Linked DNA regions of Homo sapiens. The protein of the gene in region 1 purifies or fractionates together with the protein of each later gene. This does not show direct contact. Each region holds a gene or a part of one and is shown in the gene's direction. Other genes may lie near its edges.

Region 1 (4,093 bases):
GCTATGTTACCCAGGCTGGTATCAAACTCCTGGCCTCAAACAATCCTTTCACCTCCCAAAGTGCTGGGATTATAGGCATGGGCCACCATACCTGGCCACCAGTATTCATTTCATTATACCACTTTGCTTAATTTTTTACTTCATTGATTAAAGAAATAATGTATTTCTTGAATTCTCATACTACTTCCAGGTTTTTAAATAATGTCAGGGTAATAATGCTTTCTTTTTAATGAACAAGGCAAGAAAATGACCTCATTATGAGGGATAACTATGGAAGCTCATTTTGTCCCATTTTTCCCACTTAAGTAGTATATAACAGATTTTGTTCCTTTGGAAAGCAATACTTTTAATGATAAATCTTGCATTAAAATGATGTAGATCAAAAATATTAAAAATAGTTTTATTCTTGAGCTTCATAATCCAGGAGAAAGTTTATATAGTATTCTCTAGTGATGCTCCAAAGCATTTGCACCCTTGTGGTTCAGTATAAACTTAGAAATTTTAAGAGGTTGGTAAAAAAAGGCCTTTCCTCCCATATGGCCTGAGAGGATACACTGCTGATTCTTCTCAAAATTAACAGGGCTATTGAACTTCCTCTTTCTTTAGCATACATTCCCCCACCCCCATTGAAATAGAAAAAGGGAGACTTAAACGGTTTTTTTGAATTGAGAAACTGTTTTCCTGAGAATGGAAAGACTTTAGTAAAAATGCGTTGCCTTTTGAAAATATACTGGGGGTTAGGATCTTTCCCTTTGGGATCCCATTTTCCACTCTCGTCTCTGTCTGATTCAGAAAACAATTGGGGTGGCTTTCAAAGAGTAGGAGGTTTTTTGGTCTCAGAAGTTCTCACTAGTGCTTTGAGAGATAAAGAGTGAAGTATTCTTCATCAGCAGCATCTTATCATCCACCAGACTTCACCATGTCCCTCTCGTGGTGTGTAGGCCCTGCTGTGCCACATTCAAAGGAGTAATTTCCCCAAGGCAGCTGGAACTTTACATTGTGTTGGAGTCTTGTACCGCGACCGGTCAGAATAAACATGAAGCGTTATCGTATTGAAAATACTCCTTTACCAAGGAAATGGAATGGTTAAAAGATACTGATATTTCTAGAAAACGACATGCATTCCAGATTGTGTAACTAAGAGAAATCTAACTAGGCAATAGAGAAAGCCTGATCTCAGAGGGTGGAGAAGAAGGAAACAATTAAAAAGAGAAAACAACTAATAGGCCCAAGGGAAAGGTCTCTGTTAGAAACAGTTTTCTGTCAATTCACTTTAATCTGAATTGAAATTTTTGTTTGTGAAATTTGTGTGATATATTTCTGTGCAGAACTGATAATGCTATCAAGAACCACTGGAATTCTACAATGCGTCGGAAGGTCGAACAGGAAGGTTATCTGCAGGAGTCTTCAAAAGCCAGCCAGCCAGCAGTGGCCACAAGCTTCCAGAAGAACAGTCATTTGATGGGTTTTGCTCAGGCTCCGCCTACAGCTCAACTCCCTGCCACTGGCCAGCCCACTGTTAACAACGACTATTCCTATTACCACATTTCTGAAGCACAAAATGTAAGCCATTCCTGTGAATCTAGTTTAATGAGAGAGACGGTTAGTTTAGCTCCAGGTAATAATCATACTTTGCAGTTGTATACTTTTCAGAGAACTTTCCTGAGCATGATCATGGCCAGTCTTCACCTATGCCCTTTGAAGTAGATAGGGTGTAGGTATGGTGTGTTACCCCTGGTTTATGTCTCCAGAAACGAGGATGGTAAGCGCTTTGCCCAGGGTGACACAGCTCATAGAGATAGTGCTGACTAGAAAACGAGCTGTCCGATTCTAAATTGCTGCTTCAAATCTAATTTGAAGGCAACCTTTGAATGTAAATTTACTTAAGGTACTATTGAAGAATAGGGGAATGGAGTCGCATTTGTAGATGTAATGTTTTTCTCTTCCAAAACGAAAAGGGAAGGTAGTATTATGTTTAAAGAGGAGAGAGTTTGACACTGAAATTCAGTGGTTATGGTATGTTTCATTCTGGCAGTGATCAGGCAGACATGTCTTAATTTATTCACTCAGTAAGTGTTTACCTTCTTACTCTGAGTCAGGAGCAGAACTTTGTGACATTCATTTTCTGATGTCTCCTTTTAGTCTCCGTTGGATCAGTGTGATCCCTTCCTTATTTCTAGATATTTATATTTAGGGAAAGTGATAATCCATAATAGGTGGAAAAAGAAGAAGAAAGAGGAAAAAAATCGAGAAACTTTAATCTTAAGAATAACAATATTAAATGATAAAACTTACCCAAGAATAGAGAGCTCATATGCAAATTATATGCAAAACATGTTCATAAATAGTTTTTATTCTTCTCTGTCCATGGATTTGACTACAAACTTTACAGAAAGGTCTCAGATGAATAAATTATCATAAGAATTCCTGTGCTTTTTATTAAAACTCAAAATTATTCCAAGAAAAATATTTTTATTTACAAACAGCTGGTGCCATCAATTTTTCCCATAGAAACAATTTTGAAACATTCATTAATGTATTTTATAATATATTTTTTATTGTTTTTTTCATTGTGTTTTTCTCTAATTAAGGAACACTTCCCAAAATTTAAAGTGCTCATCAACACCTCCCAAGGATTTTTCACCATGTTCCTTTAGCTGTTTAGCCATTTTAAAGGCCTGGCTAAATTTCACATTAAAAGGTTTTAAAAATTTGTTTAGTGTATTTTATCAGTAAAGTGTTTTTTTTCTCTCAGTCCCAGAACGAAACCTCAGGAAGCCAAGTCCCCTGAAGCATATGTAGCCCTGAATGACGTGGCCTTTGTTTTGTCTTTTGCATCTAGGTCTCCAGTCATGTTCCATACCCTGTAGCGTTACATGTAAATATAGTCAATGTCCCTCAGCCAGCTGCCGCAGCCATTCAGGTAAGATCATTGATCATTCACTGTTCAAAGCACCACTTTTAAGAAATGCTTATTTCTTTCATCTAAACACATATTTTTACCTGAGCAACTAAAGTAAAAAGGAAAGGGAACATGGAGAGGAGAGCAGAGTCTTGGCCAGCAATCTATTAATCTTGTCTTCTAGAATGAGTTTGCTCTGGAATTTTCTGATTCTTTGATGTTGCAAGGTGAAATAACTCATCAGTCAGCATCCACTCTAGCCTGAGATTTCACATCACTCCCTTAAGTCTGAAATAACATTCACAAAGATTTCTGCAGGAGCCAAATTTGGTTGGTGGTGTTGTCACAGTGAGGCTCTTTGGGCTGTGCGGCACCTCATGACCATATTGGCTACACCCATTGTATTTGCAGCTTCCAATCAGACCTTTGTCTTTATTTCCCTTACTTTGTAATTTCAGAGACACTATAATGATGAAGACCCTGAGAAGGAAAAGCGAATAAAGGAATTAGAATTGCTCCTAATGTCAACCGAGAATGAGCTAAAAGGACAGCAGGTGCTACCAGTAAGACTGTCATCATGTGCTTGAATGAGGGGATAGCAGCTTTGCCTCAGTTTACCTAAGCGCTCTTCTCTTCTAAATATTACACTTAGCAAGGCTCCATATATCCATTCAGAATGTCTCAACACAAGAAGTTGCTTGTAGTAAAATGTAGTTGGTATCAGATTATATGCTGATTAAATTGGAAGCAGTCTTTTTGTAATTGCAATAAAAATGCAATATCCACTTATGATTGTTATCATCAATTTTTTTCTTCAGAAGGACTATAATCAGTTTAAAGACTAGCAAAGATAAAATGAATGAAAATCTGCATTTTCTACAGAGCTATGTATCTATATGGTACCATTTTGGTTTTTTTCTATTATTTTGTTAACCTATATTTTCATATTTTATAATTTCAGACATGATTTGATGCATGTTCAGTATATACATGTAAAAGGTTATATATAAAACCTCTTCATAAATAACATTAGCTGCTCTCTTTTATTTGCATGTGTGAAAGTTATGTGGGCCATTACTGAATTCTGACATCTTTAGCGACTGGGCAGCCAACTGGGATGGCTCCTTGTGCTTTGCAACATACATAGTTAACCAACAAAGACAATAAAAGAGAAGTGATGCCCAGTAGGTA
Region 2 (4,093 bases), on another chromosome or scaffold:
GAAAAGTATTATATCCTCCGTCCAGAAGTAATTGAAACCTATTGGTACCTATGGCGATTCACTCACGATCCAAGATACAGGCAGTGGGGCTGGGAAGCAGCACTGGTAAATAAGCCAATATTCCATTTTATCTGCAAGAGTGTTAACTCATGCCCTCCTATGATGCCACATACCCTCACCCATGTTACCTCATTTTTAGTATCTGTAGGGCAGTTTTTATTTATCTGATGAAGAAACTCTTAGTCAATTTAAGTTTCTGGGCAGTAGAAATAAATCTTACGATATATATTAAATATATATTAAAATATATTAAAAATATATAAATATATATATTTCAAAGGAGGAATTTTTAATGGTTAGTTAAGTAAAGGAAGCAAGTGGTTTACTCTTAAAGTCTTTCAGGGAATCCATAGCTATCAGTACCTAGGGAGGAAAAAACTATTAGTCTTTTATGAAAGTATAGCTTATTCCCAGGGTAAGGGGTTGTTTTATTCTTTGAGATTTACTAATTGTGATAAATAGCACTAATTATGGTGACTATTCGTATTCAAATTGTTTAACTTAAGCTTACAATCTAGATAGAATGACTAAGGACATCCCAAATGAGGTCAGTAGTGCTGGTAAATTGCCCAGACAGGAATGTATGAGATATATTTTAAGGCAAGATGTATACCAGTTTATGTAAAGCGAACGTTTCACAGTGGCAAAGTGGGAGAGAAGATTGGAGCCATTATGTAGACAGCCTTACACACCAAATCAAAGGTTCTTAGTTGTTCAGGAAATAAGACGTGTGCACAACTCCCTCCCCGTAATACACACTCTCTTAGTTACTTCTGTCAGCTACTGCGTTAAGTGCTGTCATATGGGAAATGGTAACAGAAAGTTCTTTGCTTATCCAAAAAGCCCTTCAGATCTTACTTTTCTTTTTTCCTTAGCATCTTCTACCTGCAAAAGCTCCTTGACTTTTGAGAATTCCTTACAGAACTGCTAAATGTTTTATAAGGGGGAAGGAACTCCTGAAGGCTTTTTTCAGTGGGGAGTAACAAAGCAAAAGGATCTGATTGTAATCCACAAATTGGTGGGTTTGGGAGACCACAGCCATAACCTAGGAATAATGTGAGATCTTGAACTAAGGGGAGTACACTTATTTTTCACCTGTCATTCAGACCTAGATAGTCCTGCTGGACTTTAACAATAAGAGCATATTAATGGAAACAAGTGGTTACACAGGACAGGAACAGATGCAGCATTTATTGATGCTGCTTTTCCTTGGCCCCTTGGCTCCAGAATTGGGAGCACAGCTACTAGTGAAATTCTCTGTGTAGGAGGGTGCTGCCACAGTTGAGAAGACAGCCAAACTATTGCCACAGTGGTTTGGGAATAGAATACACACACACTTCTATTGTTAGCAGTGGCTTACTAATGCTTCCGTAAATTAAGCACTCTTTCATGTAAGGGAAATAGGTAAAATAATCATATAATGAATCTGTTTCACTTGAATGTCCCCTGATATTTAATGCTCCTTATTTACAGGAATGAGGGGGATATGTCTGAATCACGTGAGGAGTGGAAAGTGGTGGCAGAAGCACTTTTTGTCATTGAGGAATACTTTAGGATAATTCATCCTTTTCCTAATGTCCTTTTTTCCTGTGTGCTTTCTTCAAGTATGGCCCTACTTTTGTCTGTTAAGGAGAGGTGTGACAGGGTCAAACTTTAGCCCATGTCTGTCTAAATTTGAATTATAGGAGGTAGAATTTTGCTTTTGTAGCCTATATGCACAAACACAAACTCAATGTATAATCGGTCAAGAACAAGAACTAGAGTAGTTATACTCTAAATTCAAGTTTCAGAAGTGTGCAGTGGAAGTGATGAGAAGAGGGAGGAATGGAGGCAAAAGAGGCGGTGTCATATCTTAAATAGTATTTGCTCATGCATCACCATTGGCCTCTCCTCTTGGGTGCGAAGAAAGCAAAGGGAAGGCTGGGTGAGGCAGAATAGCAGTATAGCGTGTCTTCTGTAGCCTTAGCTATTCTGTTTACATATTCAAACTTCCAAACTTGCCCTCATGACTTTAAATGTCTTAAAGATTAGTCATGCCTCCCCACTACTTTCTTATTATTCTTAAACCATTTTGATAGTTCATGTGGTGGTGAAGACACATGATTATTGTGAAGAAAAGTACTTAAAAACTCTTGTATCCAAAATTTCTTTAGAATATATTAGAGAAAAGCACCAAACCCCTTAAATTTAGTTATAATCAAAATGGAGCTATAAAATGAGCAGATTGATTAAATAAACACCTTTTTAATGTTAATTAGCTTTTCATAGGAAGGAGAAGCCCAGAAGAGTAAGAAAAGTAGCAAGACTAGGAACAACAAGCCATGGCAGACAGCGATGGTTAGTTAAGTAACCATGCCTTCATTGGATGACCTTGCAGGGTTAGGTAGAATAGAAAAACAAAACTACCACATGTGCTTTCCACTTTTCATGATTGGTTGAATTCTGGACTGTGCTGTACCTGCATAAGCAGACTGTTTGGTTGCTTTGAATTAAAAAATAAGGTTGTGAATAGATTCCATTTGATTCAGTATATTTTATTTAGGCATGCCCAAAGATGCAAAAAGAGTAAGAATTTTAACTCTCAGTCAAGCAGTAAAGCACAGTAGTTAATAATGTAGAGCAAATTACTCTGTGCCTCAGTTTTCCCATCTGAAAAGTGAGGCTGTTAACCTCATAGAGTTCTGAAATTCAAATGTGACTGTATTTAAAGCTCTTAGAACAGCATTCAGCACATAGTAAATACCTTATAATTGTTAACTCTTTATATTGTAATTATTATTGTAGTAGGTGGGCTCTTTCTGCCAGTTGGTACCACCTGTAATGGCTAACTCATAGGATTATGATAATGCAATGTCTGGCATATGGTATGTATTTAGTAAATATTATCTCTTACCGCTATTACTATAGAGTGCTCCTAAGTAATATTTTTTAGCATGTTGTGGGTTATTGTTTGTCCTTGGAAGTGATAAAATTGCATTAAAAATTGTTAATTGAAACTGACCTCCATCTTGATTTGTTAGAACTAATGGACCTTTATTTTGCCAGACAGACCCCTCATTTAGAAAAAATAGCCTAAATTTGATTTCTAAGTTAGGAAAATATAAGATGTCTTAAAAAGATTAAAGAGTTTTGGAGACAGAGAAGTTCTATAGGAAACATCCTGTTTCTCGTATGAGTTAATTTTTCCAGTATGAGAATATTTCCTTTTGATAATATATTATTCTTAAGCCATCAAATTTTCATACAAATCTTTATGAGCTTTTGACTATTGTCCTTCAAAGTTTTGTTGTCCTTCAAAACTTGAAATTCTACGGAATTGCTTATTTTGTCTGATCTCTTTCATAGGCCATTGAAAAGTATTGCCGAGTTAATGGTGGGTTTTCTGGAGTCAAAGATGTATATTCCTCTACTCCTACACATGATGATGTACAGCAGAGCTTTTTTCTTGCTGAAACATTAAAGTAAGTATATAGCTTTAAAAAATATTTTTATACTAGACTGGTTTTGCTGTGTGATCACTAGATGATGAATTACAACTATGTGACAGGTTACACTAAATTTTGTTGTAAATATCTTTTTATGTAATTGGGTGTGTAAATTTTTAGCTACATCTCAAAAAGAATGACTTAGACTATAAGGTAGGTATTTTATCAAAAAAGTACTTAGTACCTGTTAAAATTTTTTGTTCTTTGCTCTTTAATGTGCATTAAAATCACCTGGAAGGCTTCGTAATACACAGGTAACTAGGTCCACACTCACGAAGTTTCAGTAGATCTGGAGTTTAGCTTAAAAATTTGCATTTCTAACAAGCTCCCATGTGTTACTGATAATGCTGGTCCTGGACTCATACCTGAGCTCCCTACTGTAGCTAATGAAATCTGTTAGGAATGATCATGCAGTTTTGATAGTACTAAATGACCATAGCCACTCATCCACCCGATGAGCCTTACTGTAAAGATACACATAAAAGGAACAATGGAAAAGAGTAGACAACTTTATTTTCGTCTTATACTCCAAACCCCAGGTAGAGGTC
Region 3 (4,093 bases), on another chromosome or scaffold:
CCCACTGGCGACCGCGGCTGGCGCTGAACGTGATGGCGGACAACTTTGTCTTTGACGGGTCCTCCCTGCCTGCCGATGTGCATCGGTACATGAAGATGTAAGTGGGGCCCCAGAGCTGGAGCGCCGGGGGGAGGGTGCTGGGACCCTGGCTGGCCAGAACTCGCCAGCAGGTCACTCCTGCACCGTGGAGTCCCCTCTGTGGGGAGGCACTTGCTGCCCGGGCCTCCCAGCTCTTTCCCACTTCCTCATTGAGGTTGTGCTGCTACCACAGGGCTGGAAGGGGGGAGAAAGGAATTCAAGCTGGAGCATCCTGCCCTTTGCTCCTGGCTGGCGAAGGCTTCCATGGAGAGAAAACGGAAGGCGCTGATGGGAACGGGTTGCTTTGCTCCCCTTGTGATTTTTTAACTTGGCTTATTTAGATTTACTTAAAAGTTAATCTTTAGATTATTTAGTATCACTTGCCATCAGTTAAATACAATTATTGGAATTCACGTGTTTGGCCACCTGAGCTCACCTCGTCTCTCCCATGTGTTGGGGATCCCCCCCCCAACTCCTGCGCCACAGCTCCGCCTCCCAGGTGGCTGCAGGTGACTCGCCCTTCCAAGTGTAGTGGCCACATCCTGGGATTGCTCCGTGTCAGTGCATCCTGGGATTGCTCCGTGTCAGTGCGCAGAGGGCCCTGGGTTCTGCTGTACGGCCGTGTCCCTGTAATTCCCCCGCTCCTAGTGGCCGTGGAGGCATTTTCCCACCTGTGGCCATCACTTCCTGGGGAGCGGGTCTCACAAGCGTGCATATGTTGTCAGGCTCTCTGCTTCCGTTTGGGGAGGCTGTGCCCTGGGGTCATTGTGACTGAGAAGCAGTTGAGGGTGGTGCTGGGGGCACTTCTCTGGGGTAAACCCAGTGTCTGGATGTGTTCATTCATTGAAAGGTAAAAGCCTTGGTGCTGACTTTGGAAAGTTGTGCTTTAATCCCAGGATCCAGCTGGGGAAAACCGTGCATTACCTGCCCATCCTGTTCATCGACCAGCTCAGCAACCGCGTGAAGGACCTGATGGTGAGTGACACCTCTGCCCGCTGGTTGTGCAGCTGGCGAGACACTGACCCCAAGACTGGCCCCGCAGCCCCTGCACCCTAATGGACCGGGCCATTGCTGACATTTGACACGGTGCTTTTACCCGTGCTGGGAAGCACTGCCTTCGAGTGTGCGAGGGTTGTGACAGGGGGGCCCTGGTGGTGTGCTGGGTTTGCCGTTGGCTGGCTGCGGGGTCCTGCTGAGCCTCTGGACTGTCACTGGTGAAAGGCCCCTGGAAGATTGTTTATGCAGCGCATAGAGGGCAGCGCTTAGAGAGCAGGCACATGAGCACCGTGTGAAACAGCGTCTGCGTGTGAGCTCCTGGTGTGCCATGTAGATTAATTCACAGTATCCTGAGCAAACTCCTGCTTTCCCCACCAGGGCTGGTCCTGCACAGGCGGCCAGAGGAGCGGGTGACAGCCCTTCCTCGGAGCTGGAGCCCCCGGGGTGGCCCCTGGCAAGGCGGAAGGCCTTTGCGAATAGAAGTGGCTGCTCTCTGGGCTCTGGCGCCCTGTGATTACGGGCAGTGACAGCGCCTGCTCTCCCATAGTTGCTTTGAGAGGAGATGAAATGTGGCCAACCTTTGGCCAGTATTGAGACTCACAGAAGCAGTTAATATTTAATGTCTCTTACTGCACATGAGGCACTGTGCTAAGCACTTTGTGAATCTTTCCGTAATTGTGGTGCTGGGAGCTGTGGCGTTGTTTCACGGATGAGGTTATTTGGGGTTCAGAGGTGAACGCTCAGCTGGGGCCCTGCAGGATCGCTGCCCTGCCCTGCCTCCCTGCAAGCCATCACTGTCACTCCGGATCACCCACTAGGAGCCGGCCACTTCCACTTAAGGCTCTCGGCACCTCTGACCTCTGAGGCGGGCCCTTTCCCCTTTTTTGTTGAAGAGGAAACAGTCCTGGGGAGAGCAGAGGGCTTGCTAGCGGGGGGGTGCAGCTGGGAAACGGAGAAGCGAGCACCTGGCTGCTTTGATCTCTGCCCAGGCCCTGCTGCCTCCTCCTGACTGCGGCTCTCAGAACAGTCCCCCTGTACTGCTGTTCCCTCAGACCCCTTGCAGTCCCTAACATACTGCCTCCTTCACTTCTGGGGTCACTGATTGCTCCTATACAACCTGCAGGCTGGGGGCTGCACAGGCAGTGGCTGGCGAGCAGGTCTGGCGCTGCAGCCTATCCCTGAGTAGTTTCTCTGTCGGCCCCTGCAATTCCAACCTCTTTCTCTGTTTGCTGGAGTTTGCTGGTGTGCTGCTGACAAACCTCAGGACAGCAAGTTCTGCTAAAATGCCCCATACAGAGCTGTGTGAGCTGTGGCACCAGCTCGTGGTCACCTCTTGTGAAGCCTCATGCCGCTGACTCCTTGCAGGCATTCAGGAGATGGTGGACAGGGGCAGGCAGCTGCAGAAGGCTGCCCTGTGTGTCTGTCTGCAGATCTGTCTTGTTAGAGGCCCGGGGCAGGCTTTGCGGCGCAGCTGTGCCAGTGGTGGCCTGCGTTCCAGTGGTTATGGAGACACGTGTGCCGACAGCAGCTTTTCCCCCAAATCACAGTCTCTCTCATGTGTCGCTGTTGCTGTGTCTCACTTGGGGCCAGATTCGAGAGGTGCTGTCTTGAGAGAGGAAGCAGGCAGCTGGGATGCAGCAGGTGCAGGAAGTCGGCACCTTCTGTGGCTGGGCCCAGCACTGCCAGATGGAGGAGGCAGTGACACCCTTCGGACACGCTTGGCAGCTCGAGGGGTGCCTGGAGGCCACCATCCATGTGCACTGATGCCACTTGGCTACGTGGGGCGCCCTGACAGCCGCTCTCAGGGCAACCTGGCACCTGCTGGTTGTGGCTCTGATTCCACCACACCCTGACACCAGCAGTGCCCGCCATAGCAGAGCAGGTGGATTAGAGCACAGCCCTCGCTGGATGTTCCAGCACGTGGAGGGTGGCGGGTCAGGGCTTGAGGCAGGGCAGGTGGATTAGAGCACAGCCCTCGCTGGATGTTCCAGAACGTGGAGGGTGGTGCTCACCGGGTGTGGTCACTGCCCACGTGCTGTAGGGTGTGGGCTCGCGCTTGTGAACCCGTTCCTCACCCTCCTACCTCGGCACCCTGGGACCTGGCCCACAGCCTGTGTGCGTGAGGCCCCGGCAGGCTGCAGGACTAAGCTCGTGGTTCTGAGACCTACACATCCACCCTACTGCCCCTGCTAGCTTTGCGTTCCAGAAGCTTTCTGTTGTCCCCACGGCCACCCCCTGCTCTGTGCTTTAGGCCCTGAGGCACTTTGCCCATGTGCTGCAGGGCTGTGCTTGTCCCGTGGTCTCCAACTCTTAGGACAGGCCAGGGCTCTGCAGGCCAAGCTCAGCGCCGTATGCTGCGCCATGGAGTCCTAGCAGCTGGGTGGCAAGCACCACCTCCGGGGCACCAGGACTTGTGCGGCTTAAAATTGAAGGGGCACGTGCAGCAAAACAGACCAGGCACTGCTAGCGCTGCTGAGCTCACGGGGTCCTGGTGGGGGTGGGAACCTCCCTGTGCTGGAACGCAGCACGCTGGGGCCTGAGGCCTGTGGTGACAGAAGGAGGGACCGGGGGATGCTTGCTGGGCCCAGTCATGGCTGACCTGGGGCCACACAGGGATGGGAAGGGGGATGGCAGGGTTGGCGAGGGCTGCCAGGCAGCTGGGTGCAAGGGTATGAGGGCAGGGCCCTCAGTGTGGCTTTCTTCATCAGGTCATAAACCGCTCCACCACCGAGCTGCCCCTCACCGTGTCCTACGACAAGGTCTCACTGGGGCGGCTGCGCTTCTGGATCCACATGCAGGACGCCGTGTACTCCCTGCAGCAGTTCGGTATGTGCCGCACACGGCCGGCGCCTGGGTGAGGCCGCCCTGGAGCCCCTCGGGCATCCAAGTGCGAATCCTGACACAGGCCGGGGCCTCCTCGCCTCCTGCTGCAGATCCTTGCACAGACGTTGAATCAGAGGCTAGCAGCGCCTGCCTCACTTCTCTCCTTGGAGATGACCTGGTTGATTGTCTGGAAATT
Region 4 (4,093 bases), on another chromosome or scaffold:
ATTAGTATGGTAGCCTGCCCACCTTGGCAGGCTCCACTGGAGTGCTTTGGGGCCTGCCTGGATTCCAGTCCTGGCTCTACCAGTTTTGTGTCCTCGCCGTTACTGGGAGGGAGTATTGAGGAAATGCATGCGAGGTGTTTCCGTGATTCCTGGCACGGAGCAAGTGCTCAGTAATTGTCAGCTGTGAGTATTAGTAGTAGCTAATACACTGGTACTATTCTTGGCTAACAAGCCAGCTCAAAGCTTTGATGGTTTTCCATTACCTGATGATGGTGATGATGGTTTCCACTTACTCAACACTCACACGCTGGGCTAGGCACTTAACCCAAATCCAAGGTCAGCATTATTGTTTGGGGGTGGGGGAGACACCTCCTGCTCTGACTTGTGTGTTTGGGTTCCTGTATTTTCACCAGAGGGAGTTAGTCCTGCCCCAGTTCAGCTGGTCCTCAAAGTGTATATAGCTCTTTAACCATCAGCAAGTGTCTATCAGAACATAATCTTGATTTCAGCTGCTACTAAATATCTACCAGGAGACTGCTTGAGAGAATTGCCTGATGGGTGCTGAGTCCACCATTCCTGAGATACTTTGAAATCAGTGGCTTAACCCAAGCTGTGTATCGGGACCCTCTCACCGTGGTCCCAATGGAGTCACTTTTCTTAGGCGCCCCCCTTTACCTTGGGCTCTGAGCTTCCTCTGCCTTTCATCTCTGTGGGATGAAGCCCCACCGCCCTTCAGGATGCAAAGCCCTCTTCTCTAATGTGAGTGCAGGGCCAGGTGCAGTGGCTCACGCCTGACCTCCCAACACTTTGGGAGGCCGAGGCAGGGGGATCCCTTGAGCCCAGGAGTTTGAGACCAGCCTGGGCGACACTGTGAGACCCTGTTGCCTGAATTGCCCTGGGAGATTTCCTCAGCTTGTGCTGGGGGCATGTGGCCCCATGAAGCCCGTAGTCACTGTTCACCCTGAGAGACGCTGGCTTTCGGGCTCACACACCTGCTGCGGGGCAGCCCCAGGAAATGGCCACCCCATTTCTCCTGGAGCTGCGCGTGTTCTCAGAAACTGTGGTGGCCGTTCTGTTTTGTTTGCATCTTATAAACGTTTACCTGATGACATTTTCCTCTTCAATTTAGCTGCTAGAAAATTTAAAGTCAGGTTGGTGGCTCACCAGTAATGAGAGTTTAGAGTAGAAGTAAACTTTATGACATAGTCTTAGACTCTTCACTTTCTTCTCAACCAATATGATTCACATTTACTTTATTTTGCTGTACCGTGAGTGTCTCTGTGTTTCCTGAATTCCTTCTGGAATAAGGCAGGTTGTTAGTAAGCACAGGTTTCTGGTCCATCTCACAGCCTCAGGCAGTGGGCATTGCTGTCGGTGCTCCCTTTCCGGGTTACCTGTGGTAGCTCTCAAGTTGCAGGGCTGCGATTTGAAGCCTGATTTAGTACACCGTGTTTCTGTTGTGTTCTGTGGTGGTTTGCTCCTCACATGTGAGCATTCACCGTGGCCCTGTGTTTTTCCACCACACCTCTGCCTGGTGGCATCCTACTGGATGTCTCAGCCGAGCCACTCTGTTCTGAAGATGCCCTTGTCCTCCACCCCTTTGCTTTGGGCTCTAAGCTTCTTCTGCCTTTCATCTCTGTAGGATGAAGCCCCACCCGCCCTTCAGGATGCCAGCCTTGGCAACATTGTGAGACCCTGTTTCTACAAAAAGTAAATGAGTGTAGTGGTGCACGCCTGTATTCCCAGCTACTTGGGAGGCTGAGATGGGAAGATCACTTGAGCCTGGGAGGTTGAGGCTGCATTGAGCTGAGATCAAGCCACGGCACTCCAGCCTGGGAGACAGAGCGAAACCCCATCTCAAAAAAACAAAGAAAGTGGATGCGCGCTGCTCCTGCCATTGGATCATCGCAGCATTTTTCTTTTCTCTGATATGCACCTTTTTCCTCATCGTGGGGGCTCACGTTTTCATAGTTCCCTCTCACTACTAGGTTGTGAGCTGCGTGAAGGAAGGTTCATAGTTGTGTTGTATGTACAGGCACACAAAATTTGTCCTTGGATAAACACATATCCTCTTCCTTCTTCTCTCTGAATTTCTTTATTTTAAGAAAAAAATTAGAGATGGAGTCTCACTGTCTTGCTCAGGCTGGTCTCAAACTCCTAGGCTCAAGTGATCCTCCTGCCTCAGCCTATACTAATATGAATTCCTATACTAATATGATTGAAATTAGTTTGATTTCTATAATAATTGTGCTCCCAGATTGGGCTTCTGTTTTGATAGTAGAACTAAATTATTAGGCTATTTCAAGAAATTAATATATTACTGGTAGAAAAACTGAAGCTACAAAATGGCCTGGTTTCTCACTTCAGTTAAATTTGTGCTTCTGAGTGCTTGTATTCTAGGTGAAACCACACTGAGAAGGTATTTGTGGCCCATACACTGATTCCTTCATGAGACTTGTTTGCACAGGAGAGCTGCTAAAAATTACTGCTCTCAGGGAGGTCTGTGGTGAACAGGTATGAAGAAGAAGACTGTTCTCTGCCCTTCTTTTTGCAATAAAATGTTCCAAACTATCTTGAGTTTGATCCCTTTTCGGGTGTTTGGGGTTTTTTTAACATTCACATATTTCTTGGAATTATAAGAAATTAACTTTGTGCTTCTGAAGTAGGTTTGCCTTAATATAACACTGATGTATTTGTAAGGGGCATTTTTAAAGCTGTACTTTAAAAAATAATAATTCTTACATTCGTTTGAAGGTTTTTTTATGTGTGTTTTTGAGACAGAGGCTTGCTCTATCGCCCAGGCTGGAGTGCAGTGGCACGCTCTTGGCTCACTACAACCTCCGCATCTGGGGTTCAAGCGATTCTCCTGCCTCAGCCTCCTGAGTAGCTGGGACTACAGGTGCCCACCACCACGCCCAGCTAATTTTTTGTATTTTTTTTTTTTTTTTTTTTTTGAGGCAGAGTCTCTGTCGCCTAGGCTGGAGTGCGGTGGCACTATCTTGGCTCACTGCAAGCTCCGCCTCCTGGGTTCATGCCATTCTCCTGCCTCAGCCTCCCGAGTAGCTGGGACTACAGGCACCCGCCACCATGCCTGGCTAATTTTTTGTCTTTTTAGTAGAGACGGGGTTTCACCGTGTCAGCCAGGATGGTCTCGATCTTATGACCTCATGATCCACCCGCCTCAGCCTCCCAAAGTGCTGGGATTACAGGCGTGAGCCACCACGCCCAGCAATTTTTTGTATTTTTAGTACAGACAGGGTTTCACCATGTTAGCTAGGATGGTCTTGATCTCCTGACCTCTTGATCTGCCCACCTCAGCCTCCCAAAGTGCTGGGATTACGGGCGTGAGCCAGGGGGCCAACATGGTGAAACCCTATCTCTACTAAAAATACAAAATTAGCCGGGAATGGTGGTGCGCGCCTATAATCCCAGCTACTCGGGAGGCTGAGGCGTGAGAATCACTTGAACCTGGGAGGCAGAGGTTGCAGTGAGCTGAGATAGCGCCACTGCACTCCAGCCTGGGGGGCAGTGAGACTCCATCTCAAAAAAAAAAAAAAAAAAGAATAGAATAACCCTTGTTTAGGTGTTAACAAAATCCAGGCCAGACAAATCTAAACTTTAATCTCATACCCAGTTCCTAGATGAGTCCCTTCTCCAGCTCAGGTTCCGCCTAAGCCTCAGGGTTCCTTACTTGGTGGGCACCACCTGCTCCCTTCCCCACCTTTGTCCTCTTTTTCCTCTGCTGGCTCCTCCGGGGTTGGGTGTGTTCAGAGGCAGAGACAGGCTAAAGGTCTTTGGCTTTTAGGTTCTGTTGGTGGGTGAGTTCCAGATATAGCTTTCTCTTGTAGGATATTTCATTTATTTATCTATTAAAAATATTTATTTAGAACACACCATTCATGTGCCAGACCCTGTCCAGGCACTGGGGATAGGGTGATAAATGAGATCAACAAAAATACCTGCCCACATTAAGCTCCTGTTCTAGGGAAGACAGAAAGAAAATACACGTGTCCTTAGTATATTAGAAGATTCCAAGTACTGTAGAGAAAAATAAAGCAGGCTGGACTCGGTGGCTCATGCTTGTAATCCCAGC
Region 5 (4,093 bases), on another chromosome or scaffold:
TTTTTCCAGCCTTTAGCTATGTTTCTGTAGCTAGACTCTTACAAAGCTTCCAAATTTGAGGTCAAGTTGTTTTAATAACTCCTGAATTAAAAGTAATACATGGTCGGGCATGGTGGCTCATACCTATAAACTCAGCACTTTGGGAGGCCAAGGTGGGCGGATCACCTGAGGTCAGGAGTTTGAGACCAGCCCGGCCAACATGGTGAAACCCCATCACTACTAAAAATACAAAAATTAGTCAGGCATGATGGTGGGCACCTGTAATCTCAGCTACTCAGGAGGCTGAGACAGGAGAATCACTTGAACCTGGGAGACGGAGGTTGCAGTGAGCTGAGCTCACAACACTGCACTTCAGCCTGGGTGACAAACCAAGACTCTGTCTCCAAAAAAACAAAGGTAATATGTAAGCCAGGCACAGTGGTGCACACCTGTAGTCCCAGCTACTCCAGAGGCTAAGGCAGGAGGGTGGCTTGAGGCCAGCCTAGGTAACATAGTAAGATCCTGTCTCTACTAAAAGAAATAGATAAAAGTATTATCTATTTATTTGTGGAATTGTGAAAAATAAGAAAAATCTGTTGGCTAAAATTAAGCTTTTCAAAAATACAATTTTGGCCAGGCGTGGTGGTTCATACCTATAATCCCAGCACCTTGGGAGGCCAAGGTGGGAAGGTTGCTTGAGACCAGGAGTCAGAGACCAGCCTGGGCAACATAGCGAGGTCCCATCCCTATAAAAAACAAAAAAAATATCAAGGCATGGTGGCGCACACCTGTAGTCTCAGCTACTTATGGAGGCTGAGGTGAGAGGATCACTTGAGCCCAGGAGGTCAAGGCTGCAGTGAGCCATGACTGTGCCACTGCACTCTAGCCTGGGCAACAGAGCAAGATTCTATCTCAAAAGTACAATTTTGCATATACAAAGTTGGAGTCAATGACCACACACAGTGGTTCATGCCTATTAATTCCAGCACTTTGGAAGGCTGAGGAGGGTGGATTGCTTGAGCCCAGGAGTTCAAGACCAGCTTAGGCAACATGGTGAAACCCTGTCTCTACAAAAAATACAAAAATTAGCTGGGCACAGTGGTGCGTACCTGTATTCCCAGCTACTAGGGAGGCCGAGGTGGGAGAATTGCTGGAGCCTGGGAGGTTGAGGCTGTAGCAAGCCATGATTGTGCCACCGCTCTCCATCCTGGGTGACAAAGCAAGACCCTATCTCAAAAAAAAAAAAGAAAATTGGGATGTTATATATAAAATAAGGTGTTTTTTTTGGTTTGTTTGTTTTTGTTTTTTTAATATACTGTGAACATTTTCCTTAATAAATATTCTGGGCTGAGTGCAGTGGCTCACGCCTGTAATCCTAGCACTTTGGGAGGCCAAGGCAGGTGGATCATGAGGTCAAGAGATCAAGACCATCCTGGTCAACGTGGTGAAACCTCATCTCTACCAAAAATACAAAAATTAGCTGGGCATGGTGGCGCATGCCTGTGGTCCCAGCTACTCGGGAGGCTGAGGCGGGAGAATTGCTTGAACCCGGGAGGCGGAGGTTTCAGTGAGCCAAGATCGCGCCACTGCACTCCAGCCTGGCAACAGAGCAAGACTCCATCTCAAAAAAATAAATATTCTGATACATCATTTTTAATGGCAAAATGTTCTGTTACATAGATTTATCATATTTTTAACCAGTGTCCAATTGTTGATAGTTTTCAGTTGTTTACAATTTTAAATAGCACTTTGAACATTCTTAAAAATCTTAAAAATTTTTTTGTTGTTGAGAAAAACACTTGCTGTGTCACACAGGCTGGAGTACAGTCGTGTGATCTCGACTCATCGCAACCATTACCTCCCGGGTTCAAGTGATTCTCTTGCCTCAGCCTCCTGAGTAGCTGGGACTGCAGATGTGTGCCACCATACCCAGCTTTTTTTTTTTTTTTTTTTTTTTTTTTGAGACAGAGTCTTGCTCTATCGGCCAGGCTGGAGTGCAGTGGCATGATCTCGGCTCACGGCAACCTCTGCCTGTTGGGTTCAAGTGATTCTCTTGCCTCAGCCTCCCAAAGCTGTATATCCAGCTAATTTTTATATTTTTAGTAGAGACGGGGTTTCACCATGTTGGCCAGGCTGGTTTTGAACTCCTGACCTCAGGTGATCCGCCTGCCTTGGCCTCCCAAATGTTGGGATTACAGGTGTGAGCCACCGTGCCCGGCCTCAAAATAAATCTTTTCAGATACTAATTATTATTTTGATTGAGTTTTTTGTTTGTTTTTTTAATTGCTGCATAACAACTAGACTAAGTTTTTTAAACGTGGGGATTACTGGGTCAGAGGCTTGTGTGTTTTTAAAGCTTTTAATGTCATTTTCCATTTTTTTCCTTCAGTGGAATTGTTCTCATTTTCACTTCATAGAGTAGTTTGTTACTATTCTTCACTAAACGATGGCTAATTCCTTTGTAATAAATTTGGTCTTCCTTGACATCTTGCTGTTTACATCTATTACATTTATATTTCTGTATTATAAATTACCATGTGAAAGACTTCTCCAAATTCTTGAAGCTCCTCTTCAGTCTCACAGCCTTTGCTCATTTAAATGTGGCGTTCCCCATCAGCCAACTCACTTTCAGGAAGAACATTTTCAGAGGTCCTCTTGGTCGTGTCTCTAGTACTGCAGAATACATTATAGAGCTCCCTACCCAGAGGAGAGATGTGTTTCGTTTGTGTCTGGAATCAAGGTGACTTTCCAGTAATAGATACTACCTTTGGCACTTCATTTCTGTGAAGTTGCTTTTTCCTTCTAGCTGCCTTTTTTGCTTTTTTTTTTGTCCAAGACAGGTTTAATTTTATTTTCTGTTTCTCTTTTTGGGGAAGTTCCCAGGTCATTTACCATTTATTCCACTGTAGCTTTATCTTGCTTAGACTTGTTATTGAGTCAAACCAAACCAATTATGATAAGGGGGTCTTTAAATAAAGGTGGGAAAGACTGTAGAATGAGTAAGGGATATAAATATAGGGTTATCACTTAAGCAAATTTTTAAGAAACCACAGTGTATTTGGTTTTCACATCTCTTCATATTTATAGCATGGTTTCCCTTTTATTCTGCTGAGTACTTTTTTATAATTTAACTTTCTGGTTTATTTTTTTAAAAACATTTATTGAAATATAATTTACACACCAAGCTGTTGACCCACTTAAATTGTACAACTCAAATGGTTTTTAGCATAATCATAACCATCACCATGACCACTTTAAAAACAACAAAAAGCCCCATAACTATTATCTTAGCAGTCAACTCTGTTTGTCTTAACCCTCCCCGCTTCAGTCCTAGGTAAGTGTTACCCCTAACGTGTTTTCCCTCTAGATTTGACTATTCTGGATATTTCATATAAATGGAATCTTATACTATGTGGTCCTTTGTGACTGACTTCTGTCACCCAGCATAAAGTTTTCAAGGCTCATCTATGTTGTGATATAATAGTATCTGTGATTCATTTTTTATTGTTGAATAATATTCCACTGTATGGATATTCTGTATTTTGTTCATTAGTTGATAAGATATTTGAGTTCTGATTTACTTTTGGATTCTCAGAAATAGTTACTCAGAACTTTAAAATTGTTTTACACTTTTATGGGTTTTACAGAGTTACTAATTTTTGCTTTGGGCAGCTAAGTTTGATGTTTCTGTGGGATGGACAGTAAGTTGGCTTTGAAGCTGAGAGATAGATCTAGGCTAAGGCCAATGATTGGGAATACTGAGCACATGGATGGTAACTGAGGCCACAGGAGTCAATAGGATTGCCCAGTGTGTGTGTAAAGGGTAAGAAGGAAAAGGGCTTAGGATAGAGTCTGGAAGAATCACAGTGTTTAAGTGTGATTTGCTCCCCACTCTCTGTTATGGTTTGCTCCATGAAATGGTATCTGTAACATTTAAATGAATTTACTCTTTGTTTTACATAGCAGTTCACTTCTAGAAATTTTTTCTACAGATAGTCTCACAATTGGGCAAATACTTAACGTTCATTGCTTGTATTTTCACAGAATCAGTCTAAAAAGGGAAGAACCCTCCCAGATGTTCAGGACTTTTGATACCTGTTAGTCACTTGATTTT
Region 6 (4,093 bases), on another chromosome or scaffold:
GGATGCAAACACTTTTTGAGTTTCCTGGCAGGTGTAGGCAAAAAAGGACCAGGCTGGTGTGATGAATAATCACTTCCAACCCTCCCTCTGACCTTTTCAGGCCTCCCTCTGATTTGCCTGCTTTCCAGCCCAGGTTGCTCTGATCAACTCACAGTGCTCGAATGGCACACTCTCTTCTCTCTTCACCGAAAAGCAGAACTTTATCACATTTCTTCCAGAATAGCTGTTTCTAGCCAGGTGGGATTAATTGGATGGAGGCTTGGTTTTATAAGGTGGAAGGGAATAAAACTAGTCACAAGATAGTTGTGGGGGATTTTAAAGATGTAAGTTAGTATCTCTATTAAGCTATTTGACATATGATAAACAAACAGTATTCTTCTGCAGGAAGTAGCAAAACAAAATGACATTTGACAATGTTAGCTTCTCTCATTAACATGGTGTGTTTAGCTTATTAGCCAAGATAAGCTGTAGACCAGGTTTTTACCCTTTACACGTGAAATTTGAGGCATTAAATGAGTAAAAGAATTGGGATTCCTTTTCCATCTTGGTGATCAAAACACTTTTCTCTTGTTTCCTTGGACCAAGTGATGAAGAGGTGGTGAGGGGACAGCAAAAAATGCAATTACATTTCTTCTCTTTATTTTTATTTTTTGAGACAAGAGTTTTGCTCTTGTTGCCCAGGGTGGAGTGCAATTGTGCGATCTCGGCTCACCGCAACCTCCACTTCCCAGGTTCAAGCGATTCTCCTGCCTCAGCCTCCTGAGTAGCTGGGATTACAGGCATGCACCACCACATCTGGCTAATTTTGTATTTTTAGTAGAGACGGGGTTTCTCCATGTTGGTCAGGCTGGTCTTCAACTCTTGACCTCAGATGATCTGCCCGCCTCGGCCTCCCAAAGTGCTAGGATTACAGGTGTGAGCCACCACACACAGCCCCCTCTTCTCTTTCTCTGATCACTCCAATACTCGTTCTAATTGGGAGGAATGGATTTAACTAATCTTTGGTTTTTATCTCTGTGTAGAAACTGATTTCTTGGCAGAATGGACTGTTAATATATTTAAAAAGACTGAAAACCTCTTAGAATCTTAAGTAGTAAAATATTCAGAGCGAAGAAGTAGAGATTTTACCTTTACAATATGGTGACAACAGATAACTGTAAAAACTTCTTTTTCAAATAGAACCAGCAGGAGCATGCATGGAACACATATACCAAACATCTTTCTGATAACATTAAACATTTTTAAAAGATGTTAAATGTTCTTTTCATTGTGGTGCTTCAGATTCCTGATTCTAGAACTTGTGTGTGTGGAACCTGTGTGCTAACTATTCTGTTGGAATTTACCAGCAAAGAATTATCTAAGAATTTTCAAACTAAATGATGGGGGAAGGAACTAACATTTTTGCAGTCCCTGGAAATGTAAAATGTTGTACTCACATGGCCTCACATTAAATTCCCATTAAATTGACATTTAAAAAAATTTTTTTATTTTAAAGGAAACGGAAGGACGATGAGATTAAATAACTTGCCCAAGGATTCTGGGTGGGTGTGCTGTGGAGGTGGGATTTTTATACTCTGCCATGACCCAATGTGCAAAGTCTCCTTGAAATTCAATTCTTGTCCAATATTTACCAGATTAAACTCAGTGAAATTCCTCTCTCTACTACTGTTTATGGTTATTTTCTATGCCAATATTAATCGGTAAGCCTGTCATTTTCGCCCTTGTGGCATCGAGTTTTCTTTGAAGGACAGCTTTTTTGTTTGCTTTTTGTTTTTTGTTTTGCTTTGTTTTGTTTTGAGGCAGGGTCTCACTCTGCCCAGGCCATAGTGCAGTGGCTGATCTCGGCTCACTGCAACCTCTGCCTCCCAGGCTCAAGCCTCCCCAGTAGCTGGGATGATAGGTGTGCACCACCACGCCTGGCTAATTTTTGTAATTTTTGTAGAGACGGGGTTTTGCCATGTTGGCCAGGTTGATCTTGAACTCCTGACCTCAAGTGATCCACCCACCTCGGCCTCCCAAAGTGCTGGGATTACAGGTGTGAGCCACCACACCCGGTCTTTAAAGGACAGCTCCAGAATTAGCTTTTTTCTGAGATGTCATAACAGAGGTCAGTTTTAGTGTTTGGTTAATACATAAACACATAGAACTGAGGTCAGTGCCTTCAGCATTGGTCTGAATTTTGTTGCTGTGCTACAAAATTCTAGTGAATTTCCTAGTTGTGGAGAAATGCAAAGTCAGTCTCGGCCTTTTCAGTAGAGCTTTGGTTTAGTGACTTTTTTAGTTGAAGTGACTTTTCAGCATGGATTGTCTATTGCTGTATTTTTTTAACTGCTTTATTTTAATCTTAGAAGTTCCAACTTCTAACTTTCTATACCAAATGATGTCTTTCAAAATTAGAAGTAACAGAAATGAATGAAATCGGCTGGGCATGGTGGCTCACGCCTGTAATCCCAGCATTTCGGGAGGCCGAAGTGGGCAGATCACCTGAGGTCAGGAGTTCAAGACCAGCCTGGCCAACATGGTGAAACCTCATCTGTGCTAAAAATACTAAAATTAGCTGGGCATGGTGGCAGGCTCCTGTAATCTCAGCTACTCGGGAGGCTGGGCAGGAGAATTGCTTGAACCTGGGAGGCGGAGGTTGCAGTGAGCCGAGATTGTGCTGCTGCTGCACTCCAGCCTAGGTGACAGACTGAGACTGCATTTCAAGAAAAAAAAAAAAAAAAAGAAAGAAAAGAAAAAGAATGAAATCATTAAACTGTATGCTCATTGCTTTCTCTTGGTAAAAAGCTTCTCTGGCAAATAGGAAGATGAAATGTTGAGAGGCAGAGGATACTCAAAATACTGAATTTCTTCCTTATTCCCTCAACACCTGAGTTCTGAACTACCCCAGGTGGCACCATCCTTGTAACCCAGGCGCATAACATTCCTGGGCTGAGAGCTTTGCCCCATTGCCGGCTTCTCAGTGGAGTTCCTTCTATCCCCTCTGTGGTGCCTTCCTGCCTTACTGAATTTTGCTGGACTTGGCCTTTGCTCATAGTACAGCTCCACGAACTCAGCTAGTAGGATTTCCTTATGGGTAAAAGGAGAATGTGAATGGCATACTACCCCATGGTGCTGTTGAGATTACATATTTTATGTAATATATTTATGAGTAGGATTGTGCTTGATACCTAGGAAACAGTTAATAGATGTTGTAGGCAAGGTCTTCACGCATATGGTCTTGGGAAATAATGAGACAATCCTGCTTTTCGAGGGTTCAGGTGGGTCCTATGAGCGTCCCTCTGATACCTCAATATAACCAGTAGAGGTAAATTAGCAAAATGCCAGGGGCGTTTGTTAACTTTGTTTGAAAAACAAACTGGATTGAGACATATTTTCTTACTTATAACTTGATTACGTGTGTTCATTTTCGACCCAGAAACAAATCGCAGCTGGGCATAAAACAAAGAATAGAATGTGGCCTTAACTATGTGTCAGAAAAGCCAGTTTTAGTAACTCAGATTTTAGGTTTGTAACCCAACATGACTTTAAACCTCTGGGGATTGCTGTATAGAATTTCATGCTGTGGGTGTCAGAAAGCAGCACCCCATGTTATACTTACTGGACCCCCTATGTTTGCACTTTATCTTAGTGTCTGTAATTTCTAAGTTGGTGTATGGGTTTCTATTACTGGATTGAGAGAAGATCCTAAAGGCAGACCTGTTAGGTTTCCTGTTTCTTATTTAGCTCAACCTAAGGGACCCAATGTATTTTGAAATATCAGAGCTGAAATTATATTTGGTATAGGCCATTCGTGCATACTGACTAGTTAAGAATTCAATGGAAGAGTTATAAACTATAATTTAAAATATTGATCCGGTTTATTTCTTTATATTTTCATGTACTGCTCTGTGATTGCTTATAGGATGAAAGTATATTTAATTGTATTTTTTGCCATGTATGTTTGTTTCTACTTTTGAGGGAGAAATAATCAAAAATTAAATCCAATAGAGCCTGTCTGAAGCAGGTTATGACCAATTGCCACCCCCTTTTCTAAAAAAAAAGGACATGTAAGAGAATCTTAGGTAACATCATAAAGACCTTTCTTGAGAAT
Region 7 (3,632 bases), about 38 Mb from region 1:
GAAACAGAATAGATGTTATCAAGCCAGCTGTTAGGGTGGCATCAGAATCCTGCCCTTTTAAAACAGGTGCAGTTTTTAATAAATTATTTTCATTGTTCTTTTAAAACACGTGAAATAATGTGGTGAGTGGATGGTATACATTTGATTATTATTTTCTAGAGATGCCTACATTTCTTAATGATAGAGCTATAGTTATGAAAAGGCAATGTGGCAAAAGTACTATTAAACTATGGCTCATTATAATAAGAAAATGAAGTTTGGAAAATCGTATATAGAATTTGTGTTAATCCATTCTTGCACTGATGTAAAGAAATACATGAGACTGGGTAGTTTATAAAGAAAAGATGTTTAATTGGCTCACGATTCTGCAGGCCATACAGGAAGGATAGCAGCTTCTGCTTCTGGGGAGGCCTCAGGAAACTTATAATCATGGTGGAATGGGAAGCAGGCACGGCTTATATTGCCAGAGCAAGCAGAAGCGGGGTGTGGGGGAGGTGCTACACACTTTTAAACAACCATATCTGGTGAGAACTCTATCACGAGAATAGCACCAAAGAGGGAAATCCACTCCCATGATCTAGTCACTTTCCACCATGCCCTACGTCCAACTTTGGGGACTACAATTTGGTGACATGAGATTTGGGTGGGGACACAGATCCAAACCATATTAGTTGTTATTTGAAGAGGAATAGTGTAGATTTGAGAAGTATGAAAGTAGATGTCAAATCTTTTCTCTCATCCTAAAACCTTTTTTTTTTGATACTAGGTAAAAGCTGCTGAAACATGTCAAGAGCCGAAGGAATTCAGATTGCCGAAAGACCATCATTTTGATATGATAAATATTAAGAGCATTCCCAAAGGCAAAATTTCCATTGTAGAAGCATTGACACTTCTCAATAATCATAAGCTTTTCCCAGAAACCTGGACTGCTGAGAAAATAATGCAGGAATACCAGTTAGAACAGAAAGATGTGAATTCTCTTCTTAAATATTTTGTTACTTTTGAAGTCGAAATCTTCCCTCCTGAAGACAAGAAAGCAATACGATCAAAATGAAGAAAATCACAGAAATTTCCTATGTGTACTCCTCATCCCTCCTGCTGTATATTTTCTCATTTTTTGCGTAATAAATTATGTTAATTACCAAATATTTAATGCTCTCATTGTGAGGGCATACTCTTAATATTTATTGAGCTCCCTGACTTTTCAAGATTGCCATAGAATATCTTTTGTTTTATTTTAATTTGGTTTAGGCATATTTCATAAGTGCATGTCAGCATGACTGAGCACATCTGTACCTTTATTATGGTGAAAGAGTTAATTTGTTATTTTAGGCACATATACCAACTTTTAAATTGGTCATATTACCCCTTGGGAAATGTCCTGAATCCCTCAACTGAGTTTTACTTTCCAAGTTAGGTGTTTAGTTCATTCTTCTCATGCGATAGTGAAAGTAAAAGCTTTCCTGACCCTTAAGACTGACATTTTCTCGTTAGGGAAAGAGACTCGATAGCAGGGTAGACTAACAGTAGTTCCCAAATAAAGGCACACAGGAGAAAATGAATCAATAGAATCTAATTAAAATTACTACTCCAGGGAATAAGAAGTATTGAGGATTTATTTTATTTTGAATTGGTTTTAAGTATGGAATAATTGTCTTTACAGTTATAAAAAGTAATTAGTGGTGTTTACAAAATGTTGGGAATTTCTGCTTTGACAGATAGGTAAGTCCCATGGGAATTTCTGCTTTGACAAATAGTTAAGTCCCATGGCCTTCAGAGAGGCAGGAAGCAGAAACTTTCAAAAAAGTAACATTTCTCTGGATTTAATGTGGAAATAGAGAAAAATTTAAAGAATAATTAAAAAACCATGGTAGATGAAATTTGGTGATTACATATAGTTTCGGATGTTAATGCTAGTTGAGAGAAGAGAAAAAGATAGCAAGTAGAAGCAGAGAACAGGATCATTGGAAGGGACCTGAGAAATTGCCATTTCATCCATTTTAGCAAATTTAATTAGCATAGCATGTACCAGTACTAGGATCTTGAGTGAGTGTGTGAGTTTAGCTCTGCCTAATATATTACTACTTGGGGGATCTTTGGGAGACTATATCTTCTTGGAGATTGAGTTTCTTCTATAAAATAAGCATAATGCTACCCTAAATGTAAGGGTTATCATGAAGATAAATAATAAAGGACTACAAAGGACCAAGCAAATAGGAATTATTTTTTGCGGTGGAGAAACAAGTGCCTGGGGAGAATATATGACCGAAGATTCTGTAGTTTATGACTTAAACAGGCCCAGAATTTAGTTTTTCAAATCCTAGTAGTGTGTTTTTTCTGTCTTGCCAAAAAGCAGCACACCTCAAAGAAGGGAAAAGGTGTGAATTGTGGGTATATTAGGGTTATTAGTGCTTCCGAGGGAAGATAGGCATCACTACTTCCCAGAGATGCCCCTGGAAATGATATAGAGGATGTTGAAGAATTCAATGTGATGACGGAATGAGGCATTTGTAGTAATGCTGAGAACAGAAAAATGGACTAAGTGGAAAATTTGTAAGCATGACTTTGAATGTAGATTTGTTATGTGAACAAACTACCTAGTTTATTTTTAGTTCAATACAATAATTGTTTTAAGAAAACATGAAATAACTACTCAATATAAAATGCATTTTAAAACTGTAAATAAGTCAAAACTTTATTCTTTTTATCATAATGGTCACTAGCTGAGTCACAAATACTAGTACACTCTTCTGAGCCATCTTCTTTATTCATATCTACATTGTGTGGTTAGGCATCTGTTATGTGGTGTCACATGATAAAATAAAGAACTTCTTCCCATACCATTCATCAGTCCTATACTGCGTTTTATTATATACAGGAGAGCACTTGGTAGCAGTGATGTCAGAAAGTGCATGGAATTTAGATTCAGAAAACAGTTTAGATCTCAGGATCACCACTAGCCATGCCATCTAACATTTTAAAAGTAATTACTGTACTAGGGTCTGATTGAAGTGCTTTACGTGTATTAACTTGCTTAATATTTACCATAGGTACAAGGATAAGTAGCCATATTTTAGAAGCATAGAGAGCTTCAGTAACTTCAAAGATTACTTAGTAAGTGTTGAAGCCTGGATTTAGTCCTGTTAGGTTATTTTCAGAACCTTGTGCTTCTAACTGATACGCTATGTTGCCTTTGTAAGATTATGAGAATTAATGAGATGTCATGCAAAGTGCCTGAGGCATATGAGGACAGGACTACTCAATGCTCACCGTATATGAGAATCATCTGTAGAATTCTGGGAAAATACAGATGTCTGCTGTGAGAGGCTGGTGTAAGTCTGGGAGACGCCTGGGTTCATGGATTCTGGATCACGGGTGTTTAAAAAATATCTATGACCAGTGCCACCAGCATGTTCCAAATTGCTGATCACTTGTGCAGGTGAAATAGCATTCTCTGGTCTAAAGTTTATTGTGAAAGAAGGTAAGGATCAGAGAATAGACAGAAGGGTGGCCTTGAAGGAGTTTGAAGAAAGGAAGCTTTCCAGATGATGGAAGGGAGAAGGAAAGAATTTCAGGAGATTCAAAGATTTGGGGATAGGGTGAGGAGAGGAAGGAAGGAGATTAATAGACTG

What was found.
Region 2: the proteins of MYB (region 1) and MAN1A2 purify together in Homo sapiens (co-immunoprecipitation; one large-scale study listed by IntAct). This does not show direct contact.
Region 3: the proteins of MYB (region 1) and CLPTM1L purify together in Homo sapiens (co-immunoprecipitation; one large-scale study listed by IntAct). This does not show direct contact.
Region 4: the proteins of MYB (region 1) and PDCD6 purify together in Homo sapiens (co-immunoprecipitation; one large-scale study listed by IntAct). This does not show direct contact.
Region 5: the proteins of MYB (region 1) and UBE2B purify together in Homo sapiens (co-immunoprecipitation; one large-scale study listed by IntAct). This does not show direct contact.
Region 6: the proteins of MYB (region 1) and BASP1 purify together in Homo sapiens (co-immunoprecipitation; one large-scale study listed by IntAct). This does not show direct contact.
Region 7: the proteins of MYB (region 1) and NDUFAF4 purify together in Homo sapiens (co-immunoprecipitation; one large-scale study listed by IntAct). This does not show direct contact.

Annotation. Positions count from the first base shown.
Region 1 is NC_000006.12:135,190,996-135,195,088, forward strand, and holds part of MYB (transcriptional activator Myb), read left to right. Parts: intron 1-1,328; coding exon 1,329-1,563; intron 1,564-2,842; coding exon 2,843-2,923; intron 2,924-3,360; coding exon 3,361-3,465; intron 3,466-3,964; exon of another isoform or gene 3,965-4,086; intron 4,087-4,093. UniProt on the Homo sapiens protein: Transcriptional activator; DNA-binding protein that specifically recognize the sequence 5'-YAAC[GT]G-3'. Plays an important role in the control of proliferation and differentiation of hematopoietic progenitor cells.
Region 2 is NC_000001.11:117,499,450-117,503,542, forward strand, and holds part of MAN1A2 (mannosyl-oligosaccharide 1,2-alpha-mannosidase IB), read left to right. Parts: coding exon 1-105; intron 106-3,405; coding exon 3,406-3,521; intron 3,522-4,093. UniProt on the Homo sapiens protein: Involved in the maturation of Asn-linked oligosaccharides. Progressively trim alpha-1,2-linked mannose residues from Man(9)GlcNAc(2) to produce Man(5)GlcNAc(2).
Region 3 is NC_000005.10:1,334,864-1,338,956, reverse strand, and holds part of CLPTM1L (lipid scramblase CLPTM1L), read left to right. Parts: coding exon 1-97; intron 98-974; coding exon 975-1,053; intron 1,054-3,782; coding exon 3,783-3,900; intron 3,901-4,093. UniProt on the Homo sapiens protein: Scramblase that mediates the translocation of glucosaminylphosphatidylinositol (alpha-D-GlcN-(1-6)-(1,2-diacyl-sn-glycero-3-phospho)-1D-myo-inositol, GlcN-PI) across the endoplasmic reticulum (ER) membrane, from the cytosolic leaflet to the luminal leaflet of the ER membrane, where it participates in the biosynthesis of glycosylphosphatidylinositol (GPI).
Region 4 is NC_000005.10:274,370-278,462, forward strand, and holds part of PDCD6 (programmed cell death protein 6), read left to right. Parts: intron 1-1,642; exon of another isoform or gene 1,643-2,571; intron 2,572-4,093. UniProt on the Homo sapiens protein: Calcium sensor that plays a key role in processes such as endoplasmic reticulum (ER)-Golgi vesicular transport, endosomal biogenesis or membrane repair.
Region 5 is NC_000005.10:134,381,561-134,385,653, forward strand, and holds part of UBE2B (ubiquitin-conjugating enzyme E2 B), read left to right. Parts: intron 1-4,093. UniProt on the Homo sapiens protein: E2 ubiquitin-conjugating enzyme that accepts ubiquitin from the ubiquitin-activating enzyme E1 and transfers it to a E3 ubiquitin-protein ligase. In vitro catalyzes 'Lys-11'-, as well as 'Lys-48'- and 'Lys-63'-linked polyubiquitination.
Region 6 is NC_000005.10:17,269,365-17,273,457, forward strand, and holds part of BASP1 (brain acid soluble protein 1), read left to right. Parts: intron 1-4,093.
Region 7 is NC_000006.12:96,888,526-96,892,157, reverse strand, and holds the end of NDUFAF4 (NADH dehydrogenase [ubiquinone] 1 alpha subcomplex assembly factor 4), read left to right. Parts: intron 1-766; coding exon 767-1,054; 3' UTR 1,055-2,843; downstream 2,844-3,632. UniProt on the Homo sapiens protein: Involved in the assembly of mitochondrial NADH:ubiquinone oxidoreductase complex (complex I). May be involved in cell proliferation and survival of hormone-dependent tumor cells. May be a regulator of breast tumor cell invasion.